Linked DNA regions of Homo sapiens: region 1 is linked to region 2. The links come from fine-mapping of genetic effects on gene expression. A gene starts in region 2. The other region holds a variant in brackets. All regions are shown on one strand. Distances are from middle to middle.

What was found. PIP is the estimated chance that this variant, and not a neighbour inherited with it, causes the effect.
Region 1: its variant is fine-mapped to the expression of SNX20 in whole blood (TOPMed, PIP above 0.99).

What each region holds. Positions count from the first base shown.
Region 1 is chr16:50,747,555-50,764,181 of GRCh38, reverse strand. CYLD (CYLD lysine 63 deubiquitinase) reads right to left here. Exons shown (of 19, transcript NM_001378743.1): 3 at 13,980-14,606; 4 at 12,276-12,578; 5 at 9,758-9,863. The coding sequence starts at 14,483. Among named protein-coding and RNA genes, the nearest start is that of CYLD-AS1, 13 kb to the right of the region's middle. The variant A/G (reference allele first, on the strand shown) is at 8,172.
Region 2 is chr16:50,677,796-50,693,917 of GRCh38, reverse strand. SNX20 (sorting nexin 20) reads left to right here and starts at 12,606. Exons shown (of 4, transcript NM_182854.4): 1 at 12,606-12,728. It overlaps NOD2 (nucleotide binding oligomerization domain containing 2), which reads right to left and starts at 312. Exons shown (of 12, transcript NM_001370466.1): 1 at 256-312. RefSeq lists a silencer at 83-592 and an enhancer at 9,553-9,902.

The sequences.
Region 1 (16,627 bases), 70 kb before region 2:
AGACAAGGACAGCTAAAAGGGAAAAAGTATAGGCCAATATCTCTTATAAACAGAGATTTTAAAAACAGGATGCAAATACTAGCAAACTGGACCAAGCAAAGTATGAATCATGAGGAGGTTGGGTTTACATCATGGATGTAAGGTTGATTCAATATAAGAAAATTAGCAGATTAAAAGAAAATAGGATTATCTCAATAGAGAAAAAGGGGTTGATAAAATTCAACATCAATTCATGATAAAACTGTTAGAAAACTAGGAACAGTAGGTAACTTCTCTAACCTGATAAATGACAGATACAACAATAAAACTCTATAGCAAACATCACATTTAATAATGAAATGTTGAAAGCATTTTCTTTAAGATCAGAAAAAAAGGCCAAGATGCCTTCCATCACTACTTCTATTCAATATTGTATTTAGAGGTCCTAGCTAGGACAGTAAGAAACCATTTTTAAAAATAAAAGAATTCAGAAGAGGCAAAACTGTTATTATGTGCAAACTATAATGACTGAATATTTTATAAGTAATCCATGGATTGTGAATAAGATATTTTAGTAAGTCTGTTTGTAAGAAAAATCAGCACACGAAAGTCAATTGAAAATGACTTCATTCCCACTAGGATGGCTAGAATAAAAAAGTCAGATAATAACAAGTATTGACAAGGACATGAAGAAACCAAAACGCTTACACACTGCTAGTAGGAATGTAAAATGGTGTGGCTGCTTTGGGAAACAGTCTGGCAGTTCCACAAATGGTTAAACATAGAGTTATCATATGACTCAGCAATTCCACTCCTAGATATAAACCCAAGAGAAACAAAAGCATATGTCCACACAACAACTTGTACATGCATGTTTGTAGCAGCATTATTCATTTTAGCCAAAAGGTGAAAAAAAAACCTAAATATCTATCTACTGATTAATAAACAACATGTGATGTGTCCATACAATGGAATATTATTCTGCCTTAAGAAGGACGGAAATTCTGGCACATGCTACAACATGGAGGAACCTTGAAAACATTATGCTAAGTGAAAAAAGTAAATCACAAAAGACCACATATAATGTGATTCCATTTAAATGAAATGTCCAGAAAAGGCAAATATGCAGAGACAGAAGTAGACTGGTAGTTGCTTAGGACTAAACAAGGATGAAGGGTTTGGGAGATGATCACTAAGGGGTGCAGCGTTTCTTTTAGAGGTGATGAAAATGTTCTAAAATTATCTTGACAATTGCACATGTCTGTAAATGCACTAAAATGCACTGATTTGTACACTCTGAGTGAATTATAAACTAGATCTCAGTAAAGCTGTTTTCTAAAAAAAAAGTCAATTGTATTTCTACATCAGCATGACACTGTTAGAAAATATGCTTTATAATGCATCAAAATGCAAGTAAGCTCTTCATGGAGAAAATTATAAAATTTTACCAAAAGGAAATTAAATAAATGAAAGGATACACAAGGTTTATATATTAGAAGTTTTAATATCATAGAAATGTCAATTCTCCTCCAATTGTTCTACAGATTAATTGCAATTCCAAAATCCTAACAGAACTCTCTTATAGTATTTGAGAAGCTGATAGTTAAACTTACAATGAAGCCCAAAGGCTAACAATAGCCAAGACATTCATTAAGAAAACAAACAATGGAAATGTACTCTCACAGCTACCAAGACTTCTAAAGCTATGGATAGGCTTTAGTGTAGGGAAATGACAGGGCTCAGAAAGATCCACACGTGTACATCTGGAAACTTGATTTATACGCAGCAAGCATGGAAGGTCAAATTGGATATCTGTACCCATATTTCATATCCTGTTCAAAACCAAATCTAAGTGAATAACACACTTAAATGTAAAAACGCAAAACTATCAAGAAGACTACTATTTTGAAAACAGTATAGAACAGGAAAATTCAAAAGAACAGTGAGAGGAGACTAGTGTTAATAATATTAAAACACATAAAGAATCACACGTGGAAGCAGAGTGTGGAAAGATGAATAAAGGGGGCTTGGGGTGGCGGGGGGTGGATGATGGGAGGTTGCTTGGTGGGTATAATGTGCATTGCTCCAGTGATGGATGTGCTGAAGGCCCTGACCTCACCACAATGCAATACAGTAGTGTAGCACAATTACACTTGTACCCCATGAATATATACAATTTTTTAAAAATCATTAAGAACAATGTGGTATTGAAACGTGGGAAGACAGAATAGAAAGTCCAGAAATATACCACGCTACACGTGGAAATTTAGTATGATGAAAGTGGCCTCTCAAACCAGTAAAGAGGGACTTTTTAATAAATGATACTAAGACAACAGGGTATCTTCTACCTGTGGGCAAAAATAAAAACTAGATTGGATTTATATTTCACATCATATACCACATAAAACAGAAATGGGTCAAAGATATAGATAGATAGATAGATAGATAGATAGATATAGAGATATGTACTAAAACCACAGAGTACTAGAAGAAAACACAGGGAAATTCCTTTATAACCTTACAGTAACTCAAAATCCAGAATCTATTAAAACTAAAAGAATACAACAGCATAAAAATTTTATAAATCCTGCAAGGCAAAAAGCACCAAAGTCAAAAACATCACACCAAGTGAAATGCACCAGCTCCAAAGGACATATGTATGATTCCACTAATATGAGATACCCAGAGTAAGCAAAGTCATAAGGACAGAGAGCAGAGAACAGAGATGAGCAGAGGCTGGAGGGAAAGAGGAACCGGCAGCTATCTCTTCATGAGTATAGAGTTTCTATTTGGGATAATGAACAAGATTTCTGGAAATAGATAGTGGTGATGGTTGCACAACTGTAAACATACTTACACTGAATTATACACTTAAAAATTGTTAAAATGGTACATCCTGTTAGGTATATTTTACCACAATAAAAACAAATGAGGGTGACCAGAAAAATAAGCAATTTTAAAAAAAGACAAATGACAAATGAGGGTGGAAGAGTGGGCAACATTTGCATCTCGCATCACAGAAGAGTTTGCCACCCTAACACATGAAGAAATCAGTGAGAAAAAAGGCCAATAACCTAACCCAATTTAAAAATAGGCAACAGATGCAAACAGTTCACAGAAAGAAAAATTGCCCTTAATCATATGCAAAAATGTTCAACATCACTCAGAGAAATGCAAATTTCTATTTGCAAATGTATTATATACACTGAAATATATTTTTTATCTATCAGATTGGGAAAAAAGTTAGTAACACACTCTCATGGGAAAGCTATAAGTTCCCCCTTGTATTCTACTGGCAGGAATATAAATTGTTATATCTACGACTGAAGGCAATTAACAATATCCAGAACAATACCAACGCATACGCCCTTTCATCAAGCAACTCCACTTCTGGGAATATATATATCCTCCAGATATGCTAGCACATGTGGGAAACAGACATGTACAGGTTACGGTAACATTGTGTGCAATATCAAAAAGTCAGAAACAACCCAAATGTCCATTGATAGGAAACTGGTTAAATAAATTATGAAATTTTTTTCCGTACAATGGAAAATTATACACTATAAAAAACAAGAACCTCTGTTTGCAAATATACAAAGAGTTCTAACATATAAAATTAAGAGAATAAAGCAAACAGCAGAATAGTGTATCTACTACACTTCTTGAATTAAAAGGGAAGGGGGAATAAGAATATTTATATTGTATAAAGAAACACTGGAAAGATATATAAGAAATTCATAAAAACTGTGACTAGTGAGAAACGAAGGATGGAGTAAGCAGGCAACTGAGGCAGAGGGGATAAAAATGGAAATGAGATATTTTATTGTACTTTTTAATTTTGATTTGAGATACATGAATGATTTCTTCTTAAAATTGTTTTAATAACTTGATAGAGGTTTCTAATTCAAGGGTATATATATATTAGTTAGAACCCAAATAAATCCATATGTATGTCATTATATGTGTGACTTCTATCTGAAATGAAAAAGAAAACCCTAAATACTTATCTCTAGTTAATTAGATGCACACTGAAGTATTTAGGAGGAAGTGAACTGGTATCTGCAACTTAATGTGAAATGCACAAGAAAACGTGACGGATAAGTACGTGAATAGAGAGGTGGACAGATACATATAAAGCAAGTAAGATGTTGATTGTAGGATCTAGATGATATGCATAAGGATGCTCAATATAAAATTTTCAGTTTTTCTGTTTAAAATGTCATAACAAAACATTAAAAGATGTTTTATTAAAATTCTAAAACTAGAGAACTCATGAATCAATAAATGAGCAACTCAACAGAAAAACAGGCAAAAAATACGTGTTTAATAGAAGACACAAATGTTGTATAAACATATAAAAGGCTGTTCAATCCTACTTGTAATCAGGGAACTACAAACTTTTAAACCACCTTGAGATACCATTTCTCAGCTGTCAGGCTGGCAAAAATTTTAATCAGTACCAAGTGTGGAAAAGGAGGTGGAAACAACCTAAAACCCAAGCGTCCATTAATATTACAATGGGCACCAAACTGTGGGATAGTCACATGACGAAATATACTATGAAGCAGTGAGAGTGAACAAACTACTAATGCCCTCATCCACAGAAAAGAATCTCAAAATACATTTTAAGTAAATGATGCAAGTAATTTAAAAATCAGTAAGATTTTAACTACATTAAGTTCAAAAGCAGGCTAAACAGTATATTGTTTAGCTACAGAGATATAATTAAATTATAAAAAGCAAGGAAATAATTAATGAAAAAATCAGAATAATGGTCACCTCTAGGGAGAGATTGCAATTATAATGAAAACAAGGTATTGCAGGTGGTTTTCAAGGTACTTCTAATGTTCTGTTTCTTAACCTAGATGGTCAGTTTCATGAGTGTTCATTATTATTCTTAATATATGTTGTTATATATACTTTTGCAAATACATTCTACAGTAAAAAGTTTCTTTTTTGAGATGGAGTCTCGCTCTGTCACCCAGGTTGGAGTGCAATGGCACAATCTCAGCTCACTGCAACCTCCACCTCCCAGGTTCAAGCGATTCTCCTGGCCTCAGCCTCCTGAGTAGCTGGGACTACAGGTGACCGCCACCACGCCTGGCTAATTTTTGTATTTTTAGTAGAGACGGGGGGGTTCGCCATGTTGGCCAAGCTGGTCTCGAACTCCTGACCTCACGTGATCTGCCCACTTCGGCTTCCTAAAGTGCTGAGATTACAGGAATAAGCCACTGCACCCAGCCAAAAGTTTCTTAAATATGAAAATGATGAGCACATTGCCCATTTTTAAGGATTAAACATGAATTCGTATAATATTAACATAAACATTCAAATGAAATTGTTTAATAGCTAACTCAATTTTAACATGATCAAAACCAAGATCCTGACTTCCAACTCCCACTCCCCGACGCATGCTCTTCCTGTTGTCTTTCCCACCTGGGTAAATTGCCTCTCCAGCCTACCAGTTGCTCAGTCCAAACCTTGGAATCATCCTTGATTCTGTTCTCTCTCTCAAACCTCACACCCAACCCATCTGCAAATCTTGATGGGATCTTTACATTATATCCAAATCCTTCACTTACCATCCTCTTCATACCACCCCAGTCCCAGCCACCACCGTCTCTCACGTGGATAACTACAACAGTCTCCTTCCTGGTCTCCCTGTTTCTGTCCTCTGTCTAGTTTATTCTTAACAGGCAGCCAGAGAGATCATTTAAAAATGCAAATTAGGGTGAGTTGTCCTTTGTTCAAAACCCACCTATAGCTCCCCACCTCTGTCACTATGAAAGCCAAGAATCCACACAACAGCCCACTGAGCACTACCTGTTCCAGCTCCCACTGCGGCTCCTACAACTTTCTCCCTCACTCCATCTGCCGCAGCCACAGTCAACTCTTCACATTGCTCAAACTGGCCACGCTGGCTGCGGCCTTGGGCTCTCCCTCGGAATCCACATGTTCTCTCCCAAACTTCCTTCATGTCAACAGCTCAAATGTCACCTTATTAGAAGGTTTATCAGAACTACCCTACATGAAATCGAAAAATCCCGCCCTACAACCTAGTGCTCCCTTCCTCCTCACTGTGTTTATCATTTTTCATCTTATTATCATGTAATTGATCATACACATTACATATTTACTGTCTGTCTCCACTCACTAGAATGAAAACTCCACACGAGAAGAATTTTTACCAGTTTTGCTTCCTACTATATCCCCAACATCTAGGTAAGGGCTTAATAATATTTGAATGAAGGAATGGCCTTTTATTAAACTGTTTTGTAAACCATAAGCATTTATTATAATATTTAAAAGTACTTTAATTCATAAAATAAATTGTATTATCTCCATTAACAATCATGAAAAACTAGGCCGGGCGCAGTGGCTCACGCCTGTAGTCCCAGCACTTTGGGAGGCCGAGGCGGGTGGATCATGAGGTCAGGAGATTGAGACCATCCTGGCTAACACGATGAAACCCCATCTCTACTAAAGATACAAAACATTAGCCGGGCGTGGTGGCGGGCGCCTGTGGTCCCAGCTACTCGGGAGGCTGAGGCAGGAGAATGGCGTGGACCCAGGAGTCGGAGCTTGCAGTGAGCAGAGACCACGCCACTGCACTCCACCCTGGGCGACAAAGCGAGACCCCGTCTCAAAAAAAAAAATCATGAAAAACTAAATTAAATTTTGCCAAGTAAAATATCAAGCACATATATGCTTTTTCCTGAATGTAAATCATTTGTTCCCAAAGGGAAGCAAAATAAAAAATAGCTAGGAATTCAATTTGCAATAAATTAAAAATTGATTTTACAAACATCAAGTAAAGCAAAGTATGTCACACTTTGAAGAAGTAAAATTGAAATAAAGCTATCATTTGAATCCTATACCTCCAACTAAATTAATGTGCTGTTGCTGTAAAGCTAAAAACTAAAGCAGAAAGCATGCCCTAACTTGAAAAACAAGCATTGATTACTTGCTTCAGCAACAGGAAAACAGGAAGCGCAAACAGTGCACGCTAAAAGGAACCTTAAGAATCATCTAGTATTAGCCCTTTCATTTTTACAACAAAAGAAACTGAGGACCTGAAATGACCTGAAAAAAAAACAATTCAGTTTGCTTATTCAATTGTGATCCTTGCTATAGCAAAATTCAGCTTTTATAGAATTAGAGACAAAATATATCTCCATGGAAACAATATTCCCAAGTATACATGTGAGACTGAGAAGTATGGTTTTCTATGCAGGTCTTCACATCCTAAATATACAGATAGGATTTGGGGTGGGGAGGTACTGAAAAGAGCACAGCTTTCTAATCAGACAGGTGTGGATTTAAATTCTGGCTCTACTATTTACTTTGATTTTGGTAATTGTTGTCCATCCGAGCCCCAGCTTTTTATCAGCGAAATGGGGATCATTAAGACTTACATTATAAGTTTGTTAAGAATGTAAAAAAGTATTAAGTCGTCTAACTCAGGGCCTGGTACATTCCTGGCTACAGTCTGCCTGCAGGCCTTCTGACATTTTAATCAGACTTGCATAATGCTCAATGAGAATCACCATCTCTGACTGCCACTGTTGGCTTTATTGCACTAGCCTGTATCACAGAGAGTTCCACTAACAGCAGGGGGATGAAACTGTTGATGCTGTTATCAACAGAAATTGTCAATTACCTGACAGCAGACACTAGGTGCTACTTGTTAGAGGCAAAATAAAAGATTGCTTGATTTTTCTTCTAAATGTAAAGTTGAGCAATCTATTTCTGACTAGAGTCCTGATCCCTGATCAATCACACCTTCTCAAAACTAAAAGGGATCTCACAGGTTATCCAGCAAGAATCTTCTCCACAGTACATTAGATTAGATTAGATGACCAATGTCTGTGTAAAGCCTTCTAGTTTAAACCAAGCTCTCACTCAGGTAGCAGTTTATTACATTTTCCGATCCTTCTAATTAACAGGAAGGGTTTTTCCCCCACTAAGAATGGACAGGTGATGAAAAAGTGAATGAAAACATATTAATGCCACCCTTATACTCATATACGTCTGGAAACAAAAATCTTAATTATTTTCATTTGAGGGTAAAGGATATCCTATTTAATAACAATTCCATAATATAAAAGTCAAGTTCTAAAAATATATCTTGAAGCTTACATTTATGTACTCAAAATATATATTAGAAAGCTTGCCTTATAGAGGGATCA[A/G]AGACTTAAATCTAAGACCTGAAACCATAAAGATTCTAGAGGATAACATTGGAAAAATCCTTCTAGACATTGGCTTAAGCAAAGACTTCATGACCAAGAACCCGAAAGCAAATGCAACAAAAATGATAAATAGATGAGACTTAATTAAACTAAAAGGCTTCTACACAGCAAAAGAAATAATCAGTAGAGTGGGAGAAAATCTTCACAATCTATACATCCTACAAAGAACTAATATATAGAATCTACAAAGAACTCAAACAAATCAGCAAGAAAAAAACAATCCCATCAAAAAATGGGCTAAGGACATTAGCCCACTTTTAGACAATTATCAAAAGAAGATATACAAATAGCCAACAAGCATATGGGAAAATGCTCAGCATCATCAATTATCAGGGAAATGCAAATCGAAACCACAATGTGATACCACCTCACTCTTGCAAGAATGGCCATAATCAAAAAATCAAAAAAGAATAGATGTTGGCATGGATGTGGTGAAAAGGGAACATTTTTACACTGTTGGTGGAAATATAAACTAGTACAACCACTGTGGAAAACAGTGTGGGGATTCCTTAAAGATAAAAGTAGCTCTAGCGTTTGATCCAGCAATCCCACTACTAGGAGTCTACCCAAGGAAAAAAAGTGATTATAGGAAAAAGATACTTGCACATGCACGTTTACAGCAGCACAATCTGCAATTGCAAAAATATGGAACCAGCCCAAATGCCCATCAATGAACAAGTCGATAAAGAAAATGTAGTACACATATGTGTGTATATACACACATATGTACACGTGTGTATATACACACACATATGTACACGTGTGTATATACACACACATATGTACACGTGTGTATATACACACATATGTACACGTGTGTATATATACACATGTGTATATGTGTGTATATATGTATGTATATATGTGTGTATATGTATACATATCTATATGTATATATACATATATATGTATATATACATATATATGTATATATACATATATATGTATATATACATATATATGTATATATGTATACATATATGTGTGTATATGTATATATGTGTGTATATATACATATGTGTGTATATATGTATACATATATGTGTGTATATGTATATATGCGTATATATATATACATATGTGTGTGTGTATATATATACATACACCATGGAATACTACTCAGCCGTAAAAAGGAATGAAATAATGGCATTCACAGCAACCTGGATGGAATTGGAGGCTATTATTCTAAGAGAAGTATAATAACTCAGGAATGGAAAGCCAAACACTGTATGTTCTCACTTATATGTAGGAGCTAAGCTATGAGGATTCAAAGGTGTAAGAATAATACATTGGACTTTGGGGACTCAGGGGGAAAGAATGGGGGGTGGCAAGGGGTAAAAGACTACACATGGGGTACGGAGTATACTTCTCGGGTGACGGGTGCACCAAAATCTCAGAAATCACCACGAAAGAACTTATCCATGTAACCAAACACCACCTGTTCCCCCAAAACATATTGATATAAAAAAATAAAAAATTAAAAAATAAAGTTTGCCTTATAAATGTATAAAACAAAGAAAACATACCTGGGATGATATCATTGATGTGCAATAGAATTGTACTTTCAACACACGCAAAACTACAAAGCTGCACTCCATCAAATCTTCCATCCCAGTTGCCAATAGGGTTATCCTAGAAATTAAATAATAAACATTAAAATCCTCCTCAATGAAATGTAAATGTGGAAGTCTGTATTTTCCATAAAGAATCCTCCAAAATATTTTACATTGGTAAATGTTAACAATTTTACCTAAAAGAAAGAAAGAATACATTAGGAATAGTTGCCATAGTAATAAGGTTTTGCTTTTTTCATTGGTTTGTTCATTTTTTTCTTTAGGGAAATGAGATTCAAGAATAACCAAGTGATAGTAAACCCCCAGATAAGCAAAGAATTGAAAGTGTTTTTTTCATACTTTACTGAACAATAAATACTAATCTGTAGGATAACACCCATTTGAGGTTTAAAAAGACAGTATTTTGCACAGGAAGTTTCATTAATAATATATTATTTCACCCAGAAACCTGCCTCTAATTAGCCCTAAGTTCTTCATATTCCCTGAGCATTTAAATAGTCCATCTGAACTTCTGTATGCCTTTCTGTACATAAAAAGTCTATTTTCTAATTGTTCTTTTGTCATTTATGAGCATATAGGAATCTTCTCCAAGATGGAGATGTTTATATTTAATTATCTGATATTCTAATATAGTGCCAACTAGCACTGTGCTGTACAGGGAACTACATCAGTAGACGGGCCAGTCAGACAACTGCCCTGGGCACCAATGTGCATGGCATGCTAAAATGTCCCTGGAAATAAAGGATGAATAGAAGGAAAAGGAGATAAAGAAAGAAGTTCTAGCATTTGCCAGAACTTTCCTCTTAAGGACTATAATAGAAGTGTTTGGAATGAATATCTGCACAAGTCAGCTATGGGACAGATGGAGGCAAGGAGAGAAGCTGGCAGGGCAAATCTCTAGGCAGCTTGCCTCAGGTAAACAAGCTGACCCCAGACCGCCATCTGAAAAAGGCAAGGCCTAAACCCTAAACAGCTTCTGCCAAGTTTGAGGCCCAAGGTAAAGAGCCTGATGCAAGGGGAGACCAACCCCAATGACCAGTGGCCCTCTTTCTCCAATCTTCCCTCCATGAAGGCCACAATTCTCCTTGAAATAAAGACTGAATTACTATTTAAAGAATATTGGTTAAAAGGAGTGCTTTACTGTCAGCTATCCTGAGGGGCATACATGTTTTACTCTGGTTCTAACTTTTCACATGTTAAGAGTAAACGTTTGTTTAGTAACTAACCAATGAGTATCAGATAGAATTTCCTGGAATTTTCAAGCACAGGAAACCATTACACTAGAACATTACCTTACCAACCAAAAAGTATACCTGAGCAGATAAAAATGATGACTAAAAGCATCCCCATTGTGAGTATAAGAGATTACTACTCACATCGCCTCCTAACTCATTCTAGTGTTCAGTAATTCCATATGAATTTCCTTCTTTATACATAACAAAGTCTTGCCCATATGTTCAATATATGATAAAAATGGTCTCAGCCTTTCTCTTCTTATTCTTTCAGTGCCACAGGTATAATCCAATGAACCACACTGGAATGGATCCATTATTAAAAAGTATGATTGTAAGGAAACATTAAAAATAAGTGACACAAACAAAAGGTCAAATGTTGTATGATTCCACTCTTATGAGGAGCCTAGAACCGGCAAATTCAGACAGAGAAATCAGAAGAAATTGTGGTTAGCAGAGGTTGGGGAAAGTGGGCAGTTACTGTTAAAACAGGCACAGAGTTTCGGTTTGGGATGATGAAAAAGTTCTGGAGATGAACAGGTGACAGTACAACAATGTGAATACACTTAATGCCACTGTATGCACACTTAAAAATGCTTAAGTGATAAATTTTGTTATGTATATTTTACCACAATTAAAAAAGGTTTTTAAAATGAATGAAATCCTATGAGATATTCTGATTGTCTATTCCTCAAAATCAATGTGGTTTTCCTCTACTCAGGTATTTTCTATAAATGATTATTATACTAATTATTAAAATCAGATCAGCCATTAAATTGTGTAGAATATCACAAAAAAATGGAGTACCCCAAAAAACTGTTTCAAAATAAAGAAAAATAGGACTTCAAGTAATATAATTGTGTTTTGTCTTGTTTTGTTTTGTCTACTGGTCAGCTACAATAAGGCAAATTTAAAGATAGAGAACATTATTCTAGTTTATTCAAATGGGAAAAAAAAGTAAATGTAATCTGTATCTAGACCCCTGTTCTATTTCAATGCTCCTTTACCAAAGATAAATTAGAACATGTTCTTTAAAGTACTCCAAATTAGATCATGTTAAATATTCAAAGTGTTCAATTTGCAAGTAAATTGGTCCTAAAACTAATACATATATATATAAACTATACATATATATGTGTGTATATATATGTGTGTATATATATGTTTATATATATATATACATATATATATAAACTAATATATATATCACAAAGATATTTAATCCAAAATTTTCTTACCATGTCCACACCAACAAAATATCCTAAGCTTTCTTTTCCTGGCAAAACATCACAGAATATAACTGTTCCAGATTCTATTGTTTCTCCAACCTTCAAAGAAACTCTGGAGTTTATTTCCAAAGGAGGAAGTTCGACCTGCATTGTGTCCCCAGGACCTGCGTAATCACTTTCCAATGCAGTGTCATCATCTTCTATGAGTTCTAGCTTGTCCAATGCAACAAACACGCCACAATCTTCATCACACTGAAAAAGCTGTTTCCCTTGGTACACCCCGTCAGTGAAACCTTGACCACGACCTTCTTCCTAGTTTTTAAGAGAGAAGGGAAAGAAATAGATATAGAAAGACGATCCATAGGAAAAGGGGTTCACTCTAGGGATTTCAGGAAAATCACTCTGGAAAATTTCTAAATGATACATATAATAAGAAATACAATTATTAGCAGTTTCTGTTGGATTTAGAGTGTTTTAAAAAATAAGAAGTTGTATCTGATGCTGAAATAATATTATCTGATAATTTCAATTCATAACTCTATCATGAGAAAGCTAGGCTGAATTCCACGTTGTGATTCTAACATTAATTTGGTTATAAAAAGAAAATGTTACTTTAAAATAGCAGTAATGTTAGCTCCATTCATTAAGCACTTATTGTCAGTCACTGTGCTTAAATCCTGCATCAATGTACCACAAAAACACTACAAGTCATGTACTATTAACACCATTGTACAGGTAAGGATGCAGAATGAGAGAAGTTAAGTAGCTTTGTTAAGTAACCTGGCAACCCAGCTAGTAAATGGCTTAACTGGGATTCAAATTCCTAATTGTTTACAATCACTGCTTTTAAAAAAAATTAAATCAAGAAGCAAAGAAGACATGCAATTCTATTGGCAAGAGTGTCAAAATGTAATTGGCATTTCAGTTCTTGTGAATGAATATTAAGTTTGGAAACATATCACAGCATTCTTGGGTCTCCTTCCGGTAGAAATAAATTCTAAGGATTTTCACATATATTATCGGGGACAATTATAAGCAAGTTTAAATTTCTGCAACTTTTTTTTCAAAAATCTTATATCTAAATTGTTATTTAATAACATACATTAAGAAGAACTAAGAAACCTATAGATGATAACGCAAGGTAATTAACAATTTTTTATGTAACTATTTACAACTGGTAGCGTTCATGTTTAATACAGGCAATGTTAAAATTTCTAAAATATATATGTCTGCAATAGCCAGGTGAATCTCTTTGTATGTTCCTACCATAGTACATAGTTTTTTAAGTTTCGACATCATCTTTACATCTTCGCAATTCATCATTAAAAAGTAAACAAAAGAAATTAAATCAAGAAGCAAAGAAGGCATACAATTCTATTTGCAAGAATGTCAAAATATAATTGACATTTAAGTTCTCAAGAATGAATATTAAGCTTGGAAACATATCACAGAGTTCTTGGGTCTCTTTCCAACAGAAATAAACGCCAAGGTGATTTTCACACATATTATCAGTGACAACTATAAGCAAGTTTTGGATTATGGATTCAACCACAACATGGATTCATCAGCAAGGATGATGAATATTAAAAATTACAGAAGACTCTTGGGAAAATTTATTTCGTATTTAAGGAGAAAAATATGTATGTGCATACAAATACACAGACACACATGAACACAAACAAACACACTACTAAAATGGTTTATCAAACTTACCAGCAATTCAACTCCAAAGAATATTCCGGAGACTGTCCTCTCTGCTAACAGGGGTCCTCTGAAGCGTACAACTCCAGGAAATTTTTCTTCCCCAGATCTCAGCTGTACTTTCACAGGACAGCCCACGTCTATTTGGAGGCCTTTACTTAGTCTGTTTCTGTTTTTAAACAGGCTGAACCTCTCCTCACAATTGGTAATTGCCAAAAGTAACTCTGTGAACTTTTCATTTATCTCTACAACATCCTTTTCATCAACAAAGAGAACTGCATGAGGTTGCTCTAGAATTTTTAATCCAATCTGATTTTTCTTGCCTTTTGCAGAAGGAATCCTTGAATGCCCCACAGAACGATCTTGAATATACTGTCCTATACTTCCCTTCGGTACTTTAAGGAGCTTTTGTGTTTGTTTGTCTGTAACGCTGCATTCTTGAAGAAGCAAGTAAAAAATCCGCTCTTCCCAGTAGGGTGAAGTGACTTTTTCTTGGCTCCATAAGCCTGAACTCATTGTGATATTAACTTCAAAATACTAATTCAAAAAAGGGAAACTACTAATAACTTTGTCATAAAACCGCAAAAGATAAATTCAGTGGCAGTCCCAAAGCATGTTTTCAGCAACGTGGTGTCCATGCTGTAAAAAGAAAGGAAATCAAAATGCCTAGTGAAAAAGCAAAAATAAACTTTAGACTTCATTCTACATGACTGAAAATTAAGACTGAAGACTTTTAAAATTTTCATTTGACCAGTAAACACATACACACAAATGAAATATTTTCAAAAAATATCTAAAAGGGCTAAAAGACATACATACTGTATTACTTTTATCTACTGTAACTGTGCATATTTAATTAATGAAATCCAATTGTAAAGTACTTTCAAAGACAACACAATGTTTGCTTCCAAGACACTGAAATTTATAAAATCAGATTCTAGTAAAAACTTTTAAAGATTACCCTTATATACATATTCTAACTTTTTTTAATTTATTTTTATTTATTTGTTTTGAGACAGGGTCTCACTCTTGTTGCCCATGCTGGACTGCAGTGGCACAATCACAGTTCACTGTGGCCAAGACCTTCCAGGCTCAAGTGATCCTCCTACCTCAGCCTCCCGAGTAACTGGTATTATAGACGCATATCACCACACACAGCTAAGCTTTCTATTTTTTGTAGAGACAGGGTCTCACTATGTTGCCTAAGCTGGTCTTGAACTCCTGGGCTCAAACAATCCTCCTGTCTTGGCCTCCCAACGCACTGGGATTACAGTCGTAAGCCACCAGGCCTGTCCCATATTCTGACACTAATAAACTTTTAAAAGTAGCGTTTCGGGCTGAGCTGTGTGGCTCATGCCTATAAATGATAGCTATGATATGGCCATATTGTGATAATGGAACATTTTACCTCTGACTCAACTTCATTTCATATATTTTTTCTGAAGATGGGCAATGTTCATCACATTAATCATAGTTATCTGATTTCTCAAATCGCAAATATCAGATATTATAATATGACTATATTAAAAATATTTTAAAAATCAATTTTGTAGCATCAAAACTTGTACTACATAGCAAGGGAATATCATGATATAACTGCATTATAATTTCTTTCTATTATTTCTTTTTCAAATTTTCATTTATTTTTATTTTATTTATTTATTTTTAAGACAGGGTCTCGCTCTGTCACCCAGGCTTGGGTACATTGGTGCGATCATAGCTCACTGCAGTTTCAAACTCCTGGACTCAAATGATCCTCCCACCTTGGCCTTCCAAGGTTCTAGGATTACAGGCATGAGCAACTGCACCTGGTCCTCATTTAAAATTTTTACAAGAATAATAATCTTTCCAATGAAGTAGGCTCATTCTCAAACCTATTTTAACTGATGGTTAAAAAACTACACAATTTCATTAATTTAAACTGAGACTTTACTTCATTATTTTAATTAATTTTCTGCTGAAAACAATACTTCCTAGGTATCCCTGTCATAAGAATGTGGCTATCTGGTTTCCAAAGACAGTACTTTCATTTCATCCTTCCTTGAGATAGAGGTATCCATTTCCATTATTCTGGGTAATGGCTGCAATTGATAGCACTATCATATTTATTTTATTCTAGCAATTAAAAAATAAATACTCCTAAAGAACCAAATTTTAGATTTAATCACTTAATGATCAAACAACCTGGCAAATCTATACACAGTGGAACACTTCTTTTAGAAAGCACTGCTAGATAATGAAGTATTCCATAATGGTAACGTTCCTAAAAGTCTCTCCCTCTACAAGCCAGCATGAGACATGTGGTTTAGCCAAGACAGGATACAGGTTAGGCACCTCCTTCAAACCAACATGACTGAAATATCTGTGTAACACTCAGTGAGGGTAAAAGCAGAGGTAGCATGAAGTGGTTCTCTTTTCTTCTTTTTTGTGGTGTGTTTGTTTTAATTCCACTTGAGGGCACTGTCTACTTCAGCAAGAATGGGATCAATTTATATTTGCCACTTATATAAGACACCTGTGGAAACCTCTATCTTGACACAATATAAACAAAACTCCTTATAAGGGCTGCCCAAACAGCTATCCAACCCCTCAATTTGGTTGGATTCCTTTAAAGGACCAAACTGAAGTGTTGGTTCTTTTTGACCAAAATGCTTTTAACA
Region 2 (16,122 bases):
TGGGGAAACTGAGTCCCACAGAGAGGAAGGAAATCAAAAGAGTGGCCCAGGGGCCTCCCCAACCTCGAGATGCCCCCTTTCCGTCTCACTTCCCATCTACATTCTGGGACTCCCCCAGGAGAAACCGAGGCAACCCTTGCCCAAGCCCTGCGGCCAGGACGGCTCAGAAGCCAAGTGTTCAAGTCCCGGGGGTGGGACCCTCGGCGCCCACAGTCTCCCCCCAGCCCACCCCCAGGCGCTGGGCACAGCACTCACCGCGAGCCGCCTGCGCGCCGACTCCAAGGCCCACTCCGGGCCACGACTCCCGGCTCCGGCTCCGGCTCGGGCTGCGGCTCCGGGTGCGCGGGCGCTCGGCTCCGCCCCCGCCCGGACCCCGCCCCTGCTCTGCCGGGACCGCAGCACCCGCTCCTGTCCCGTGGCCCCGCAGCCCCGCAGCCCCGCAGCCCCGCAGCGCCGGCTCCAGGGCTGGCCAGGCTTACCTGGGACAGGGCAGGACCGGGGCTTCCTGCGGGGCTGGACGGCCCTGGCTGTGTGCCCTAGCCAGTGTGCCTCTCTTTCTGGGCCACGTTTCAACCAGGAGGGAATCGGGGAGTCCTCGGAACAACCCGCTTCCCAACACATACACATACACACACACACACACCACACACCACACACACCGCTTCCCAGCACACACGCGCACACACACACACCACACACACACCGCTTCGCAACACACACACACGCCCTGCTTCCCCCCCACACGCAAACATGTTTCCCAATACACACACACAGCCCTCGCTTCCCCCCACACACAAACATGCTTCCCAATACACACACAGCCCTCGCTTCCCCCAACACACATACCTTGCTTCCCAACACTCACATACACACACACACACGCCCTGCTTCCCCCCACCACAAACATGCTTCCCGATACACATACACCCCCTACTTCCAACACACACACCCTGCTTCCCAACACTCACACACACACCACTTCCCAACACACACACACCCTGCTTTCCCAACACATACACCCCACACACACCGCTTCCCAACACACACGTGCACACACACACACACCCCACACACACACCACTTTCCAACACAAACACACACTACACTCCCTGCTTTCCCAACACACACACACCCCACACACACTGCTTCCCAACACACACGTGCACATACACACACCCCACACACACACCACTTCCCAACACACACACACCACACCCCACACACACCACTTCCCAACACACACACCGCTTCCCAACACACACAAACATGCTTCCCAATATACACACACCCCACTTCCCAACACACACACATCGCTTCCCAACACACACATCGCTTCCCAACACACGCCTCACTTCCCAACACACACACACACACACACGCACACACAGCCAAAACTAGGAAAACTTTTCCAGAGTGTGACAGGTTACATGTTAGGTAAGAGTGGACTGGTCATTTAAGGTTCTTTTTTTTCATTTTCCTTTCAGTTTTTCCGTTTATGTTGAATGGAGTTTATTTCTCAGTTTAGTACTAATAGGGTTTGAGTACCTTTCTAGCACTGCCTAGATTACTTGGCTCTGAAACTATCTAATTAGCTTTAATAGCATTGTTTTTGTTTCCATTAAATATATTTTATTTTACATTCTTCTGTTCTCCGGAGCAAATGACACCGGTTTTCCATTTAACATGTTAATGTAAATGTTCCTTTTGAAACTCATATTTGGTTGTTTTAAAAAATGTGAAGTCAATTTTTAAAAATAACGAAAATAACTGGCATCTAGAAAGTGTTTACCATGTGCTAGTCTTTACAGACAGTAACTCAGTTACTTCCACCTCTAGGGTATTGACTATTATTGCCTCTAACTTATAGATGCAGAAACTGAGGTACACATTTGAACTTTGATCTCACGCCCACCAAGGGAGAAGGAGGAGGCAGGAGATTCCCCTAAGAGGTGCAGAGAGCAGCAGTAGGATCCTCCAGGCAGACTCGCTCACTTACACCCACCCACTCACTGGCATGGTGAAGATGGGGAAACTGAGTCCCACAGAGAGGAAGGTACTCAAAAAACAGTGGCCCCCTCTGAGACCTGAAGCCCGGGCTCCTCAGGACTTCTCACTCCTGCCAGGGGCCTCCCCAGCCTCGAGATGCCCCCTTTCCTCTGGCACCAGAGATGGGGATTTGCCCCAGGCCTCTGGCACAGATGAATGCTCTAACCACTACCCCATACCGCTTTCAAGTAAATACCTGTGCAGGTGGTGCACAGTCAGCCAAGGTTGGAAAATGCTGCATTAGAAGGACTGAATCTACCCTAGAAAATTCATTCTGGGCAGCGCACAGAACCATCTACAAGGATGTTCACCACCATCTTGCCTACAGCAGTGAGAAGCTAGAAACCTCCCTAATGCCCAGTAACAGAAAATTAATTAAGAAAACTGACAGAACATCTGAACCTAGAACACTTAACCCGACCCATCTTCTCTCAGCCCCACTATCCAATCTGGGAGCAAATTTTTCAGCTTGGCCTTCAAATATTTCCAAGCTGCAGCCCATTTTTGCCATATGCACCATTACCACCTGGGTCCACATCTCCATCATCTCTCACCTGGGTGATAGCAGGAGTTCCTGGCCATTCTCCACGCCTCCATCTACAGCCCTTCTTCAATCCAGCAGCCAGAGTGAGTCTGTTGGTTTTGCTGTTGTTGTCGTTGTTGCTGTTTTAAGTCAAATTCTATCACTCCTCTGCTGAAACTCTTCTGTTGATGGCTCCCATCCCAAAGTAAAAGCCAAGGTCCTTACAATTGCTGTTTGGCCTCTGGCACCCTCTCTGCCCACCTCTTACACTCTCATCTTACTCACTCTGCTCCAGCTACACTGGCCTCCTGGCTGTTCCTCAAATATGCCAAACCTGCAGTTACACTCAGGCCTTTGCCTTTGCTGTGCCTGGAATGCTCTTTCTTTAGAAATCTACCTGGCTCCCTCCTTCCTCTCCTTTGGGTCTTTGCTTCCATATGACTTTCTCGGCAAGGCCTTCCCTAACTATTCGGTGTACAGCTGCAACACCCTCCAATCCCTTCTCTCCTGCTTTATTTTGTATTTTTCTCCATAGCGCTTATCTGCACACAACACATTATGTATTCTACTTATTTATTGTCTTTGTTGTTGGTCTCTCACCCAAGACAGCATGAGCTCCAAGGGAACAGGGAATTTTTGCTTTGTCCCTTGCCTTCTCCCAAGGCCTAGAACAGGACCTGGCATGCAATAAATCTTTGTTGAGTGAATATACTAAAAATAATGCTGTGGTTCTAATAACCAATGAAAATAAATGAATCACTGTACCCCCACGAGAACTGCAGCCTCACAGACATAATGTTGGGTGAAACAGGCTGAGTGCAAGAGCGTGCATACGGAATGGTATCCTTTCTATAAAGTTCAAAAGCAGGCAAAACTGCATTACAGGTAGGAGCCAAGATAGAGGCTACCACTGGGGAGAAAGTTGGAGGTAGTGACTAGGGGAGGAGTGAAGGGGACTTCTGGGGTGCCAGTAATCTCCTATTTTTACTCTGAATAGTGGTTGCATTGATGCAAATACATTGTGAAACTGACCAAGTTAAACACATGATATTTATATTTTCCTTTATGCTTGTCATATTTCAATAGATATTTATTTTTTAAAGATGCTATAAGTATGTTTATCAGATAGAAAGCTGCCTAGAATATATAAGGCTAAATTTATAAAGTAGACTCTTTTTTGAACGAGGATGCCAAGATGATTCAGGGGGAAAAAAGTGGTCTTTTTAACAAATGGTGCTGGGAAAACTAGATGTCCACATGCAAAAGAACTGAATTTGGATTCCTCCTTCAGGCCTTATACAAAAATTAACCCAAAATGGATCAAAGTCCCAAATGCAAGATTTAAAATATAAAAATCTTAGAAGAAAACATAGGTGAAAATCTTTGTGACCTTGGATGAAGCAATGATTTCTCAGATTTGACACCTAAAGCACAAACAACCAAAGAAAAAAATAGATAAGTTGGACTTTATCAAAATTCCAAGCTTTTGTGCTTTGAAAGACATGATCAAGAAAGTAAAAAGACAACCAACGGAATGGGAGAAAATAGTCACGACTCATATCCAGAATATATAAAGGACTCCTGAAACTCAATAACAAACAACTTTTTAAATGAGCAAAGGATTTGAAAATGTTCAGAGAACGTATGTAAGTAGCCAACAAGCACATGAAAAGACGCTCAACATCATTAATTGTTAGGGAAATGTGAATCAAAGCCACCATAAGATACCACTTTACACTCACAAAGGTGCCCTTAGTCCAAAGGACAGAAAACAAGTGCTGGAAATAATGTGGAGAAACTGGAAGCCTCATACATTGGTGGTTAGAGCGTAAAGTGGTGAAGCCACTGTGGAAAATAGTTTGTGGGTTCTTCATAAAGTTAAACATGGTGTTACCATATGATCCAGCAATTCTACTCCTAGGTATACTCAACAGAATTGAAGCATATATGCACACAAATGCTTGTACACAAATGTTCATAGCAACATTATTCATAAGAGGAAAAAGTGGAAGCAAACTAAATGTCCCTCAGCTGATGAATGGATAAAGAAAATGTGATCTATCTGTGCAATGGAATATTATTCAGCTGTGAAAAAAACAAAGTACTGATAAATGCTACAACATAAATGAACCTTGAAAACATTATGCTAAGTGAAAGAAGCCAGTCACAAAATGACATCTATTGTGTAAGTCCGTTTACATGCAATGTCCGGAATAGGCAAACCCATGAAGACAGAAAGTAGATTTGTTGGTTGCCAGGAACTGAGAGGAGGGAGGAATGAGGAGTGACTGCTAGTGGGCATGAGGTTTGGTTTTTGTTTTGTTTTGTTTTGTTTTGTTTTTGCATGATGAAAATATTCCGGAATTAGATCATGGTGATGGTTACACAACCTTGTGAATGGACTAAAAACCAGTGAATTACACACCTTAAAAGGGTGAGTTTTATGGTATGTGAATTATATCTCAATGAAAAACAGTTGGGCTGCCAAATGCTTTGTGTAGAAAGAATATAAGGCTAAATTTAAAGAGTAGGTTGTTTTTTAACAAGGATGCCAAGATAATTCAAAGGGGAAAAATGATCTCTTTAACACATGGTGCTGGGAAAACTAGATATCCACGTGCAAAAGAAATGAATTTGGACTACTACCTCATACTTTATACAAAAATTCTGTAATAGATATGTGTGAATATATGCATTGAAACATCTAAAAGACAAGTTAGGATCGGATTTTAACTGGACTTTTAAAATTCTTCTGTGTTAACCTGTATTTCCTAATAAGCATAATTTACTTGTTTAATAATAATTTTTTAAAACTTTCCAATGAGTTAAGGGATATTGATTAAAAACTCCCTGTGTGCAGGGCCCTCTGCCGAGACAGGCAATTGGGATGCCCTGGAGACATTTCTGTCCTTGAGTGCTCTGACATGGGCACCGTGCAGGAAGTGCTCAGAAGAGGCGGAGGGAAAATGCTTCCAGAATCCCCCGGGCCTCAGAGGAGAGAAATCCTTGGATTGTGTCATTCAAAATTCTTCCAGGCCGGGAAGCTGCCTGTGCCTGAGCACTTCCCCCAGGAGCGAGGACTGCCCCCATCAGCAGGCCTGGATAGTAGGAGCTCAGCCCAGGACCGACGGCGGCTGCTGCTGCTGACAGTGGTGGTAACCCGGCCTCATAGTGGGCTGCAGTCTCCACGCTGGTGGTCCTCTGCTCCAAGCAGCCCGCCCACTCACCAAAGTCCAAACACTTCCACAAGCTGGCCCAAATGGATGAAGACAGGAATGGCTTTCCCTCCCCACATCTCTGCACCCCTAGCTTCACCAACTTCCCGCAGCTCTCAGTACTCCCACCTGTGAGCTTCTGCTCACTCTGTGCCCCAGGCAGAGGCAACAGGTGGCAACTGCAAGGACTCTGGCCCCAGCGAACTTGGATTTGAATTCCAGCCCTGCTCCTTAGCGGCTGTATGCTCTTGGCCAGTCATTTCATTTCTCTTGACCTCAGTCTCCCTCACAGTTAAGTGAGGATGACAGTCCACTTAGATCTTGTCATGAGGGATGCATACACTAGGACTCGGTGCCTGGTAAACAGTGAGCACACCACAGTGTGAATATGTTATTGAACACTTGCCATATGCCACGCCGTGTACTCTCACAACACCTCTATGGAATAGGTTCCATTCCTCATCCCCATCTTTGACAGGAAGAAACGGAGGTTTCAAGAGGATCATGAATTTCCTAAGATGACCCAGCTATGGAATGGTGGGACTATGAGTCAAGTCCACGTCCTTCTCTACCTGCTTTTATCTGGACCTTCCATGCCCACCTCCTGCAAGGAAGCTCTCCAGACCCCACAGTCCCTGTGGGCTCTCCCAGTCCTCTCAGCTGCAAAGATCAGCCTGCCTGTTCTCCTGTTGGCCATCAGCCGAGACGGTCCAACACTGTTGGCCCAAGTTCCATGTGTCCGTCCTGTGTATCACCAGTCTCTGAGGGTTCAAGGTATCCCTTCCTTGTCCCTTCCTTGTTGCTGGACCTCAGCCTCTGGCCCAGTGCTTGGCCAAGTCTGTTTTCAGAGTGACTTTTTTTTTTTTTCCGAGGTGGAGTCTCACTCTGTTGCCTAGGCTGGAGTGCAGTGGCGCCATCTCAGCTCACTGCAACCTCCGCCCCCTGGGCTCAAGCGATTGTCCTGTCTCAGCCTCCCAGGTAGCTGGGACTACAGGCATATGCCATCATGCCCAGCTAATTTTTGTATTTTTAGTAGAGACAAGGTTTCAGCATGTTAGCCAGGTTGGTCTCAAACCCTTGACCTCAGGTGATCTGCCTGCCTTAGCCTCCCAGGCTAGGATTACAGGCGTAAGCCACTGCGCCCTATCCATGGGTGACTTACTGACAGAGGGACAATGCTTGAAAGAAGGACACATTGGAGCAGGCAGCTCTCCACAGAGCAGCCTCCAGCCTGGGAACCTGACGTGCCTGCATCTCTTGGGCAGCCTCTGAGGTTGCCCCATTCCTACCTCAAGACCAGACCCAGCATTCTGTCACTTCCCCACCTCAGGTCCTAACCCAATTCCAAGCTCATCAGTACATTGGGCAGGAAGATCAGACACCTGAAAACACAATCCAGCTCCCCTGCCTAAGCCTCCTCCTGAGACCCCGTGCTGTGCCTCCTCTCTCTCCTTCCCTTCCGCCTTATTGTTTCTAGAATCACCCCTCTGTTCTCAAACCCTGCCATTCTAGCCCCAAGCTTACAAACCCCACTTCAGCAAAATAAAATGTTCCATTGGCTGAGGGTGTTGTCTTTGAAAATCAGTTTCTCACTCCTCCATTATTAATTAACTCACAGAAGACCATATCATTCTTCTTTTCCAATGTGTGGACACAAGTGCCAACTTCATCTGCATGGTCAGAAGTGCCGGGTTGGAACAGAAGAGCCAGGGCTGGATTTTTAGCATTACTGCTGCCTTTTTTTTTTTTTTTTGAGGTAGAGTCTCACTCTGTCGCCCAGGCTGGAGTGCAGTGGTATGATCTCAGCTCACTGCAACCTCTACCTCCTGGGTTCAAGCAATTCTCCTGTCTCAGCCTCCTGAGCAGCTGGGACTACAGGCATGCATCATCATGCCCAGCTAATTTTTGCATTTTTAGTAGAGACCGGGTTTCACCATGTTGGCCAGGATGGTCTCGATCACCTGACCTCGTGATCCGCCACCGTGCCCGGCCCACTGCTGCCCTTTTTTAGGTCCTCTGTGCAAGGCACATACCTTAAAATGATTTACAATGGACCTGATGGCCCTTAACCCCACCCAAACTGCTCATCAGCACCTTTGCCCAAACAGATGTCCCAAGAATGGGAGGTGTATGTTCTCCTGATCAGAAAAGTTGGATTTTCTCCTAATCTTAGCCATGAATCTTTACACAATCAGCAGTTCTGACAGTCCTGAGGTTGACAAAGACCAGGAAGTTCAGTAATGGTGACTGAAGCTCCCGCGGCCTGCAATGTAGAAATAAATGGGCCTGTACCCAGCCCCACCCTGCCATGTCTCAATATAACCACAGCGGTGCCCCACAGTGCATTCTGTCTGCAACCCCAGTTTTTAAATCCTGCAATATTAAGAACCTTTGAAATTTAATAAAAAGCTATACAGGCACATCCAGCTGCAGAAAAACAAGATTGACAAGATCAAATTTTGTGTCACCTGCGAAAAACACCTGGCCAGTTGTGGTTTGCTCTACCAGCGCTGAGAGGCACACCTGGGACCGATACACTCTTGTTGAATTTCTCAAAGAAGGCGTACCAGTGTTGCAGTTCCAAGCATGTCAGGCATCCAGAGCGGTAGTGAGGGGTAGCTTCTAGTACTCAATTGTTTGCTCAATGTAGAATGCTTTGGTGGTAAAAGGACATCATTTAATTTCATGTTGCAATTAGGGAAGCCAAAAATCAGACAGGGTGGTGGCCTGCCCAGAATCACACAATGAGTCAGGGCTGAGCTGCAGCCACAGCCTCGGTGACCACTTCTCTGCATTCACCCCGCCATTCATTCATGCACACAATGACTTACTGAGCACCCACTATGTGGCAGGCACTGTGCTGGGTGCTAGAGACACAGATAATGATACAGACAAAGTCCCTGCCATTGTGGCATTTGAGACAGGAACTGCACAAGTATACAAATAAGCAAAACAAGGACAGATCTCGACAGAGGGGTCAGAAGAAGGCTGCATGGAGGAGCGAAAGTGAAGCTGCTGCTTCATGAGATGAGATGAGATGATGAGATGAGATGAGATGAGATGAGATGAGATGAGATGAGATGAGATGAGATGAGATAAGCCAGAGATGGAAAAACCAAGCGGAGGGTATTTCCAGCTGAAGGAACTGCGAAAACAAAGGCACGTTTGAGCAACAGAGAGCAGTCTGGGTTGGCTGGTGTGTGGTAGGTGACACTGGGAGTGGACCGAGTGACAAACGGTAAGCGGCAGATCATGGAAGCCTCAGCAGAGAGTTCGGATTTACTCTGAATGTGGTGGGAGGCCACTGAAGGGTCCAAATAAGATGGAGAGGTGCTCTGATTTTGAATTCTAGGAGAGGCATCAGATTCTGAGACACTACTAGTATTTCCCCTTTCTCACTCCTGGTGCCTCGTGGTGACCCTCCTCGCCATCTGGCTTCAGCGCTGCAATGGAGGATGCCCACTCCTGTGTCCCCCGCATGACGATGGGACCTTGTCTGCCTGTTATGAACTGAGTATGTGGCCTCCAAGTTCATATAGTTCATATATTGAATTCCTAATGAAAAAGGTGAGGCCTTTAAGAGGTAATTAGGCCATGAGGTTAGAGATCCCTGAGCACTCTCTAGCCCTCATTCTGCCATGGGAGGATAGAACAAGAAGGCAGCCATCTGCAAACCAGGAATCAAACCCTCCCCATATACTGAATCTGTTAACACGTTGATCTTGGCCTTCCCAGCCTCCAAAACTGTGGGAAAGAGATGTCTGTTGTTTAGGCCGCCCAGTCTGCGGTGTGTTGCTACAGCAGCCCAAGCTAAGACACTACCTATGCCTTCTGCCTCCACCACAGAGAACTCTGGCTGCAGAGAAAAAGCAACATCCAACAGGTGGCCATGCGTGGCATCTTCCGGTCACTCTGGCTCAGCTGGGTCCTACCGACATAGGCCAGGCCCCTCTCCATCAGGGGGTTTCCAAGAAACGTCTCCTTTCCCCATAAGAGGAAGTGGCGGCAACCACACATTTTTCCCCTGTGGTTGCCTTCTGCAGCATGAGAGGCTCACAGGGCTGCAGAGAAAGGCTTAGAGTCCACCCTGGTGTCTTGCAGATTCCAGGCCTGGGCAGAGAGTAGGCGAGAAAACTGGAAAGTTACGGGACACAACCCAGGGAGGAGAGGGCATTCCAGCCTCACTGTATGCAGGGAGCCACACCACCAGGCCCTCTGCTGGGCAGGGGGAGGCGGAGATGACCGACCTATGGCCCCTGCACTTACGGGGTGCCCCAGCTAGCAGGCCAGAGGCACACCACTCATGGCACTCCTCGTGAGCTCTGCCCAGAGACAGACCTTTGCAGATGTGGAGGTTCTTAATGACAGTGACGGCACTGCAGAGAGGTGGAATTGCAGGGCCATGTCAATAAGCAAGGTCAATAGGTAAACAGGGACATTATAGAGCCTCCAATGAAAAAGACAAGCAGCAACGGTTTTAGAATAGTAAGAACTGCCAGCACTTGTACAGCTCGGAACAGTGTTGTTCTAAGTGTTTGGCTCATCTGAACTCCTCTTGAGGTTCACAAGCCTATGAGCTTGTTGCAGAAGCAAATACAGGAGAAACCTTCATGCCCTCCAAGGATGACACTGGCTCAAGGCGGAATGTTTTGGCACTAGGAGGACTTCATTAAATTTCATGTTGCAATTAGGAAAGTTGAAATTCAACCATATCAAAGGACTAATATGGTTCTTTAAAGTTGACAACTTCTATTCGTCACAAAACTCCATTAAGAGAGTACAAAATGCAAACTGCAGGATGGAAAAGGATATTGAGAAGCACATAAACCCAAATGAATACATAAAGAACACCTACAAACCATTAAAAATAATCAAGTCAATAATGAGCAATGACCTTGAACAGACACTTCATTGGAGAAGGTATAAGGATGGCAAATAAGCCCATGAAAAGATGCTCAACATCATTAGTCCTTAGGGAAATGCAACTTAAAACCTTGATGAGAGACCACTGCACATTAATGCAGTGGTACACTGAAAAACACTGACCAAACCAGACACAGTGGCTCACATTGGTAATCTCAGTACTTTGGGAGCCCAAGGCAGGAGGATTGCTTGGGGCCAGGAGTTCAAGACCAGCCTGGGCAACATAGTGGCCATGATGGTCTATCCCTCCAGAAACAAAAAAAATTTATTAGCCAAGCATGGTGACGTAACTGTAGTCTTAGCCACTCAGGAGGCTGAGGTGGGAGGATCATTTGAGCCCAGGAGTTCTAGGTTGCAGTCAGCTATGATGGTACCATTGCACTCCAGCCTGGGTGATAGAGCAAGACCCCATCTTTAAAATAATTATAATAATGACCATATCAAGTGCAGGTAAGAAGGTGGAGCACCTGGAATTCTCATATACTGCTGGTGGGAATACAAAATGGCACAGCCACTGTGGAAAATATTTGGCGTAATCTAGCACAGTTGAAGCTATCTATACTCTGAGACCCAGCAATTTCACCTCAGATAAGTACATGGACTTGGATAAATGTGTAAGAATATCATCAGTGGCATTGATCATGATGGCCACCCTAGGAACAACCCAAGTGTGCATCAAAAGACAAAACAAAAAATGACAAATGGTGATGTATTTAAATAATGAAGCAACAGAAAACCAAACACAGCATGTTCTCACTCATAAGTGGGAGTTGAACAGTGAGAACACATGGACACAGGGAGGGGAACATCACACGCTGGGGCCTGTCAGGGGTGGGGGCCAGGGGGAAGGAGAGCATTAAGACAAATACCTAATGCATGCAGGGCTTAAAACCTAGATGATGGGTTGATAGGTACAGCAAACCACCACGGCACATATATACCTATGTAACAAACCTGCAGGTTCTACACTGGTATCCCAGAACTTAAAGTAAAATAAATAATAATAATAATGTAGCAACACAACAATGGAAATGAAAAAAAGTATCTACACAGAAATGCATCAGTGAATCTTATACCCATAAATGTTGCATGAAAGAAGCAAGGCACTGGAGAATACACACAGTATGCATGGTTCAATTTATATAAGATTCACAGATGAGTAAAATGAAACTGAATTGTTTGGGGATCTCATAGGTGGTAAATTTCTAAGGAAAAGCCAAGAAGTAACCCCCATCTGAATCAGGACTGTGACTGCCTCTAATAGGGAGGAAGGGAATCATGGCTCAAAAAAAAACACATGGCAAACTTCTGGGCGAGCCAGCAAAGTTCTATTTTTTTTTTTTTTGTCTGATTTCTGTTTCTTGCCTTCAAGGCCACAAAGATGGGTGGGCATGAATCACACCACACTGCCCTGGGGTTTCGCTTCCCTGGGACTTTCTGTTGGTGGTGATGGATACAGCTTTGCTCAGAGAAAAGGCACCAGATGGAACTGTAATTCTACCCCACTGCTCTTCTATGTCAGTCACTGGCTCTGTGTCCCACCAGCTCTGTGATCCAAGCCTCGGTTTTCCCATCTGTTCAAGGGGCATGACGGCCCCCATCATGCCTAGCTCATAGAGTAGAATAATGAATGTTAAAGGGCTCTGGGAGCTAATGCCTGAATTCCAGAGATCAACGGGGACTCGAAGGACAGCCAGACCTCTGCAAGGCGGCAGGGAAAGTGAGGCTGAGCTAAATCCCACAGGGCTGGCCCCACACCGCCTTGCCCTTCCCTGCGCTACCCGGAAGAAGAGGTGGGTACAGCTGGCAGGCTGGCAGTTGAGTTCAATATACCATGTTTCACCAGCCAATGGGCTGGGGCGATCAGAAGCAGGTCACACAGCCTGTTTCCTGTTTTCAAACGGGGAACTTAGAAAGTGGCAGCCCCTCGGCTTGTCGCCGGAGCTGAGAACCAAGAGCTCGAAGGGGCCATATGACACTCCTCCCGGACCCCTGGACACACACAGCCCTGGAGACTGGAGGTCAGTATTTGATCCCAAGCTCAGCTGTCCTCTGCCTGCTGTGGCCTGAGTCCCCTTCTCCTGGGGCCCTGCCTGGCACCTGCTGGGGGCAGGGTGGGAGGGGGAAGAGTTAGTGACAGCCACTGTGTCTGGAGCTCTCCTTAGCACACTGAGGCAGAGGAAGGGACAGCTCCTGGACCTTCCATCACCTCCATTCCTTTTGAAATGCTAGGCGCTTGTACAACCCATCTTGGGCCTGGAGAATAAGTCACCACACCTGTGTTTCTCAAAAGAACAGTGTCAGGGAACCCCTGCCTCAGCACAGCCTTAGAGGACTCATGGAAAATGCAGAATCCAGGCCTGTTCAATGGCACCTTCCTATGTTAGCAGCCAGGAAACCTGCTCTTGGACAAGCCCCTGGGATCCCACCCCCACCCCACCAGGGGATTCTTACACACACTGGGTTGGGAGCCCCTGGCTTTGGCAAGGCTTCTCAGGTGAGCGTCCAGTTGTTGGAGGGTACCCACCCTTTCCCCAAGAGAGGCAGCCACACATCCAACATCCTGGGATCTCTGTCTCCCAGCGTGGGCCATGTGCTTTATTTCACCCCCTAGAGGCTCATCCCCCATGAAAAGTCCTCCGCAGGCCCTCAGAAAGATAGTGTGGCCTCTGTGTGCCCAGCAGAAGAAGGACTGGACTTGGCAGTCAGCTCTTGGAGAGGGGGTGGTTAGGACACCTGGGGACAGGAGGAGGAGAATGACTGTCTGTGCACACACGGCTGGAAGGCAGAGGAGGCTGGGAAGCTGCTCTGTCCCCTGGGCCAACTACAGGCCCCCAGGCCAACAGCAACAACACTTTTAGTATTTTGTTATAAAGTCAAGAAATCTTTGCTACAGAGGGTGAGGAGAGGGAAGGAAAGGGCCATGGAACCGTCTATGTGGCTATCCCCAGAGAGCTTTTAGAGTGACAGGATTGCTTTCCCATTTCACAGATGAGGAAACTGAGGCCTGGAGAGGGATGGGAAGCTACCCAAGGCCCCATGGATACACCAGTGCACAACTCTTTCCTTCCCCCTCCTCTTTAAATGGGTGACTCCCAATGAAACCTGTAAGAGACAACCATAAGGGAGCTGACTGTGGCTGCTGAATTTGATTTTATTCTAAGGCCTGGTTTTATAATCAGCTTTCTCAGTCTTTACTGGAGTGTCAAGCCGAGGCATCATTTCTAGGGTCTTACAGGGTCTCTGGGCCAATAGTGCCCTGCTTCTGACCTGGAGCCAGCTGCCTGGTCATGAAAGCAGATCTGCAAAGGCTGGGGCCCCTGAGGCCAAGGCCACTCGCCATCACCCATTTTACAGAAGTGCTGAGCATAGGAGTGCCCTGGGCCCCCAAGAATCCCAGCCACCAAGAATCACGTAAACCATCCACTGTCTCACTTAGGCACCAGTCAGAATGTAGGGAACCCACCCCTAGTCATCCATCATCTTATCAACAGGACGGGGCTTGTAGCCACATTTATCAGGTAGGGAAACTGAAGCCTAGAGATATTAAAGCACTTGCTTAAGGACACACGGTTGGTCAGGATGGAAGGCGATGTCTCCTGACTCCCTGACAGGCACAAGAGACAAGCGAGAGGTGCCCGTGACGGCATGCTCAAGAACGTGCAGCCCTGGGCCAGCCAGGCCCCTGCTCCGTGCCTCTGTTTGCCCATCTGTAAAAGGTGAGGTTGGATCGAGGGTCCCTGAGGGCCGCCCACTGGATGGCTGTGCAGAGCCAAACGGAGAAGGCCCCAGGGTTCCTTTCACCCGACACAGCAAGCACTTCCCCCTGAAGTGCAGGCTCCAGGCCCCAGCTGACCTCCCCTCTCCCAGGCCAGCGGCTCTCACCCCTGGAGCAAGGGACAGGCGCTGGCTGTGCTCAGGGACATGCATGACTCCCGCCCCCATCTGTGCTCAGGGGGTGCCAGGGAGGCACTGGCTCTATCTTTCTCTAGGCCGTAGTCAGCCCAGGGGTTCAGACCAAGAGCCCAGAATCCAACAGATCAGAGTTCAAGTCCCAGCTCTACCTCTATGTTCCACTGGCAGCTTCCTCAGGTCATTTGCACCTTCCTTGTCTTGAATTTCCATGCCTAACCAGTCAGTATACCAGCTACTCCCTCCAGCCGATCTAATGTTTTAATTGTCCCTTTCTCTAAGTTGTCTCAAACATTTGTAATTCTATTCCAATCCACCTTAATTTAGTCATTTATTTCACAAATATTTCTGGAAACATCTAGCACTTAACAGACACTAAAAGCGGGGGTACTACACAGTCCCTGGGATGGACAGGGCCCTGAGCTGAGGCTTCAGAGTCTGCCTGACTGAATCCTCACCCCAGCCTTGTGAACGTGGGTTCTGTTATTATCCCCAATTTATAGGAAACAGAAGCACAGAGAAGTTGAGTCACTTGCCAGCTACCAGGTCATCCCTTCCACTTATCCGGGTCACAGACAGAGTTATTATGTAAACCAGATCCCAGCTGCCTGTTCTCCCTCCCTGAGTAAGGTGGAGAGAATTCTGAAGTCAGCCCAGCCTGGGTCTGTATCCTGCCCACCACTCACCAGCTCCTCATCTTTGGCAACTCTAAGTCTCAGTTCCCTTATCATAAAAGGGAGATGTAAACAGTCCTGAGTGCAGACAGTGTTCAGGTTAGTGCAAGAGTGTGTGCTGGGTGTGAAGTGCACAGCCAGCACGTCACAAGCACTGGAGACAAATTCAGCTTTGCTTGTTGCGCACACTCACCAGCTGCGTGACTTTAGACCTCAGTTTTCTCATCTGTTATGTGGTGGTAATGATAGACTTTTGTGAGCATTAAACTAGATTAGGGGCTATGGAGAACCTAGATGGGTATGAAGTGGGTATAATAAGCTATCAGTTAATTTTGCTGATAGATAGATTATTGATTGATTGATCGATAGAAGATTCATACCAGTATCTACCTGCTCTGAACACTGACCTTTCTTTTTTTCTTTTTGAGATGGTCTTGTTCTGTCACCCAGACTGGAGTGCAGTGGCATCATCATAGCTCACTGCAGCCTCAGTCTCTTGGGCTTAAGGGATCCTCCTGTCTCAGCCTCCCAAGTAGCTGGGACCACAGGCGTGCATCCTGGATAATTTTTTTTTATTTTTTCTAGAGACGGGGTCTCACTACATTGGCCAGGCTGGTCTCAAATTCCTGGGCTCAAGTGATCCTTCTAACCCAGCCTCCCAAAGCGCTGGGATTACAGGCATGAGTGGCCATGTTCAACTTGAACACTGAGACTTCATTCGCATGTGTAACATAAAACTGAGTATCTAGACAAGCCAGCATCTTTCTTTCAAGTAATCACTAAAGCCAATACTTTTACTTGAAATCATCTCATTTAAAACTCTGAGCAA